2 separate regions of the Homo sapiens genome follow, and region 2 is linked to region 1. A link means that fine-mapping ties the variant in region 1 to the expression of a gene that starts in the linked region. Tissue or cell type: nucleus accumbens. Region 1 holds a variant in brackets; the other region holds the start of a gene. All regions are shown on one strand. Distances are from middle to middle.

Region 1 (2,684 bases):
ACGGATTCTTAAAAATCCCAGTCAACAGGTTCGGATTTTTCGGCAGACGTGCAAAGTTCAGATACAAAGATCACTGTAACTGTCAGAGAGGTAAGGACCTCTGATACAATGGATTTAAGAGGTTTTTTACTCCAACAGTCAGGGCAAGGGAAAGAGAAAACCGTGCTTCTCTTGGAATCTCTTCCAACAAGGGGGTTTCCTCCAGTCCCCTCCAGATGCGTTGACCGCGCTGGGAAACCGAGTCCAGGGCCAGGATTTGTTTTTCCAAAGCCGCGCGACCCCAGCAGGGCTTCAGATCCGAGTTCCCAGTTGCTCTTCAGTCTCCCCCGCGTTCTTCCAAACGCTATCAGGAGCCACGCAGGTTACCGCACCACCGGTCATTTCCCTGTTTCTTCTAAAAGTTCTCCAGCCAAATTTCAGCAATTTATTTAAAAAGGCACCAGGTCACCGCGACCTTCGGGCGGCTCCTCAGGCCTCATGGGGTAGTTTGGTCAGGATCTGCGCGCCCCTCGACGTGATCAGAACCGTGTGCTCGAACTGCGCCGACCTGTAACACAGCACCCAGCCGTCAGAACGCGCACGCAAGCTCCGGCCGGGCCACAAGCGCGCCGTCGGACCAATCTTCCTTTCCCATACAATTTAAAAGCAACAGAGCAGAAAGCAAACACCTTTGATTGTCTAGGGAGACCACAGTCCATGCATCCTCCAGGACTTTAAATTCAGGGGATCCCTCCGTGATGATTGGCTCTGTAAGAGGAAAAATATTTACTGCAGTGACCTCATCAGATTCTTGTTAAACATTGTTTCCGGCTGATTATTAAAAAAGAGAAGTTTCTCCTCCCTCCCCTCAAGTGCTTCCCCCACAGGCTCATGTTGTCATCTTGCAAGGGTTGATAATTGATGTTGCTTACATAGTATACTACAAACTAAACAGTTGGAAGAGGAAACACTGCGCCATTCAAAATGTATGAAGTTGCCTAGTTCGTAATTTTTTAGAGAAAGAAGGGCATTTTAATCAAGCTTTAATTAGGACCCCGTGGATAATAACCACCCAAACACCAGTCCCTCTTATAAATACCAATTTTTAAAAAAATATTTAAATTTTAAAAACATGCTCGAGATGTTCATTCATCAGCAAATAACAATTTTCTTATTTCACTCTAATTGCTTCTCCATTAAGTCCCACAGTCAGAAACAGGATGTCTTTACGGCCCTAGGTGACTGGAATTTGGTGGTGATACCAATCACAGGATCAGCCAGGAACGGGCCACCAGAGAGCACATGCCACTTGCTGACAGGGAGCAAGGGACATAATCGTGTCTAGTTACTGGGTGTTAATGAAAAAACAAAACAAAACAAAAAACCCAACACCACATTATGCTGGTAACAGAATTAGAGGTTGGATGGCTGCCTTCTCCTAAATGTGTCGGTAAGTATCTGATTTAGGAAGATGGGGCTTGAGGATATTATTTAATCAGATTTCCAGTGCATCCGAATTATTTCATTACACTGATTGGCTTTATTGGTCCTTCACCGGACTGCCGGGCCTAGGCCAGTGGCAAAAGCTTCCACCAGGAGCTACGC[A/T]CTCACTCGGAAGAGGAGCTCAATTTACCTATAGTGAATGCCATGCCCTCCTCCATGGGTAGATCACTGTCGTTTGCTGCAAAACAAAAAACATGGGGGGTGAGAATAGGAAATGGGGAGGACAGAAAAAAAAAACAGATTACAGGGGTCAGGCCCCTTTAAAAAACTTGGTCGTTTTATTTCTCTTCTTTTAGAGAAGGAAGGGTGGAGATTTCTGGAGTCCTGGATAGTGACCAGGAGTTAAACACGGGGCTACTGGGCCTGAGTCTTTGCATTATCTGTGCTCTGGGTCAAGACTCCCCCAGAAGAGTTTTCCAAGGCCTGGCAGGGGCAGCCTGGTTGTTTCAGACACGTCAGGCTTCCTCGCCCCCTCTCCCTGTCCCCCAGGCTACTAGGTCTCCCAGCCTACTACTGGGTCCTGGGCCTTGCCCACACCCCTCACTCAAAGAAGTCCTGGGGAAGGATGCAAAGGAGGGAAGCCTCCTTTGGTGCAGGTTGTGGGGAGCAGGGGCCTGACTTCAAATAGCTTCACTCCAGACATTGGCACCAGGTAGGGCACAAGGCTGACAAGCCGTTTCTGCACTCTCACCTGAACCTCTTGAGCTGCCTAGGTGGGGGCTCTTTGGTCCAAAGAGGGTTTGGACCTGCTGGGTGTCCAGCGATCCTCGAGGGCATGGGTCCGAAAGAGTAGTCCTTCTATGGACCAATCAAGTCCATAGGGGCACAGGTCAAGGCCCCAGGACCAACTTTCCTTTGATCCCCGTCCAGGTGTGGACCTGCCTTGAGGGTGCTCCACTGAGCTGCCTCCTACCTCAATCCAAATCCTCCCACCCCTCTGGGCCCACCCCTGTCTTCTCACTATAGGGTGCACACCCAGGCAGTGAAAAACAAGAGATTCTGGGGAAGGAAGACAAGGGTGGGCATAATCTAGAAATCACGAAGGAGTACATGCTGCTAAATACATCAGCTGTCAACGCTGTGTAGGATGTAATGAAGTTTAACCACAACAGTCAGCAGCTAGAAAAGGGGGTAGAAAAAGAAAAACAGAAACAGTCATATGTGCATGCTGCTGGGACACTGATGCAGTGGCGTTTTGTTTT
Region 2 (2,684 bases), 190 kb after region 1:
AATCTCTTGAACCTGGGAGGTGGACGTTGCAGTGAGTCAAGATGGTGCCACTGCACTCCAGCCTGGGCGACAGAGCGAGACTCAGTCTCAACACACACACACACAGACACACATACACACAATACACATGTGATTGGGGTTGTGGAGAAGCATTGACCATCTGTAAGCCCCTAGAGGGTGGGGGCTATAGGTTATTTGCGTTTTTTACAAGCAGGACCATGTCAGGCATATAATGGATGCCCATACATGTTTGAATCAATATGTAGCCTAATACAGTGATATTGGCAAGACGGGTTTAGAAACATTGTTTTGGTTCAAGATAGAGTTACTGCTTCTTCTACTTCTTAGGTAGGGCTAGAAATCGAATGGAGAATTACTTTCTGTTCATGTATGGGCAAGCGATTCATTGCCAGCCCTGTCAAAGACACATAGAGTTTTTTTTCTCATTGCACACAGGATTTGGGTGATTAGGAAAGTGGAGCGAGTCTACTAATAAACCGTTGTAATAGCACGCAAAGCAAAAATAAATTCAGCGTATTCGTCCCATGCCAATTTAGGAGCATATTTCTCAAATTATGTTTACGTAGGTTTTCCCTAGAGTGAGTGGTTCCCAATCTTGTTTTGTCGGTATTTGCCATCAGTTGTCATTAATTCATTGTTATTAATGGGAAGTGCTCTTTGATCCGTCGGAACCTTGCTCAGTATAGGCCCCAAATGTTCCTTTAAGCCTCGGGGAAAACGACTTTGGCTGGTCGGTGCCCAAAGCCACACCCACTAAGAGGCCTTAGGAAACCTGGGGCTTTCCTGGCGGCGACCTAGCTGTGGCAACCACGCGGCGCGTCGGGATCCCATGGGTCGCGCTTGTTTTCCCCGTGGGAGGCGCGTCCCCCTCCTCCGCCCGGCCGGCCGGCCCTGGACCAGCTGCCTTTCTGGCCGGGACGCCGGGCCCCTTTCCGCACGCGGCGCGCCCCGAGTTCATTTGCATAGGGACGCGCGCGGCGCCGGCGAGAGGGAGGGCGGGCGCGGCCGGGAAGACGGCGCGCGCGCGCCCTGACAGCTCGGCCCTGCTCGCTCACTCGCTCGTCCCCGGCTTCCGAGCACAGCATGGCGGTCAAGGTGACTCCAACTCTCTGCTGCTGCTTTTATTGCATAAGAGACATTCCGAGCGCCCTGCCTGCAGCCCCCCACTGCTTCCCATTTTATTCATTGTCTAGGTCTTAGATAGCTTGTCCTGGGGCTCCGGCTTGCTGCGGGGAGAGCTGTGCGGGGCTTGGACCGGAGGAGGGGATGCCCGGCTGGGGGAGGGGAAGGAGGAGGGATTGTGAGTTGAAGGGGCTTGTACGGTAACACGGGTCAGTGAAGGAAGAGTAATGTCCTGTCCTAGGTGCATGGGATTGTGAGTCCGGAGTTGGAGGGCATCAGAAAGGGTGTGGGAGGAAGTGGCAAGTAAAGCTGGGGATACCTAGGGTATCAGTGAATTGCGGTGGGGGAGGGAGTAAGTATTGAGTAATTTGGGGCCTCAATAAGGCCGAGGGCAGTGGTTGGCTTTTGCGTTGCAGATTGCAGGGTATGGAAAGTATTTGTATTTGTGGCAGCTCTCATATTTTAGGTTGGATGGGGAGAGGGACGCGGAGATAATTACATGTTGGGTTTGCTTTTTATGGAGAAAGGCTGCTAGGCCAAGTGATTAATTTGGGTGATTTAACTTTCCTGTTGATCTACTCTTGTTAGCTTCTTGATTTGAAGGTGGGTGGTTACTACTGTGTTGCTAGTAGATGTGGAATAAAGTAAAAGATCCTCATTGCCTTCCCTTTCCAGTCCAGAGGAAGCACTGTCCGATAGCTTTGCTGTATCTTAGGCTATTCGCACCTGTTTTTCTGCCCTCTAGTCACAGTTATCCAGTTTGACAGTTCTTATCAGCAATTAGGGCTTTTAGTTTGTTTTAAACTAAATGATAAAAGATAGGAGCATTGATTGTTAGCCATGTGACCTCTAATCTGAAGAGATTGTGTGGTCTCTAGTGAAGCATTAACTGGCTTTTTTTTCTTTTTTGCTTACAGGTGCAGACAACTAAGCGAGGGGATCCTCATGAGTTAAGAAACATATTTCTACAGGTAAATTGGCTTGCATAGTGTGCCTTTCATTGCAAAAACAAAAAACGTACATGTCCTTAGTCCTATTCATGCCTTAACTTTGAGGAATGTTCAGTTTTCATGTATTCTTTCAAACATGACCGGACAATATAGCTTATACTTCTCTTAATAAGGTTTGATTTAAGGCCTTCTTTTAATTAAGGGTCGATAAAAGGTTTTCCTCAAGTTACTGCTTTTTTTTTTACATGACTTAAGATATATATTTTGAAAAAAAATTTCCAGCTTAAGCACAGAGACCAAGATAAAATTTCAAAATGTATTGGCATTCTTGTATAGTTAATAGGTATGATGACTAAAATTCTCTTCCTTGAAAGTTGCATGTTTACAAAGTTTTCCTACTTATGAGCTATCCTCCATGTAATTTGTTACAGAGATAAGAATATTATAGCTATTCTTAATTTGTGTGTCTTACTTACATTGTATCCTTAAGCCTTGGGGATTTTACCCCAAAATGTTACCTCTTAAGATTCTTGCAATGGTCTACCTTAACTTCTAAGCTTTTAGAATCAGTGACTTGGCTGTAGACTTAAA

Evidence for each region. PIP is the estimated chance that this variant, and not a neighbour inherited with it, causes the effect.
Region 2: it holds the start of SLC25A12, and the variant in region 1 is fine-mapped to the expression of SLC25A12 in nucleus accumbens (GTEx, PIP 0.95).

The regions. Positions count from the first base shown.
Region 1 is chr2:172,078,191-172,080,874 of GRCh38, reverse strand. METAP1D (methionyl aminopeptidase type 1D, mitochondrial) reads right to left here. Exons shown (of 10, transcript NM_199227.3): 8 at 1,613-1,660; 9 at 669-747; 10 at 1-547. The coding sequence ends at 469. Among named protein-coding and RNA genes, the nearest start is that of DLX1, 6.0 kb to the left of the region's middle. RefSeq lists enhancers at 1-14, 15-543. The variant A/T (reference allele first, on the strand shown) is at 1,585.
Region 2 is chr2:171,892,635-171,895,318 of GRCh38, reverse strand. It overlaps SLC25A12 (solute carrier family 25 member 12), which reads left to right and starts at 1,075. Exons shown (of 18, transcript NM_003705.5): 1 at 1,075-1,116; 2 at 2,061-2,114. The coding sequence starts at 1,105. RefSeq lists enhancers at 296-862, 863-1,429 and a silencer at 833-1,152.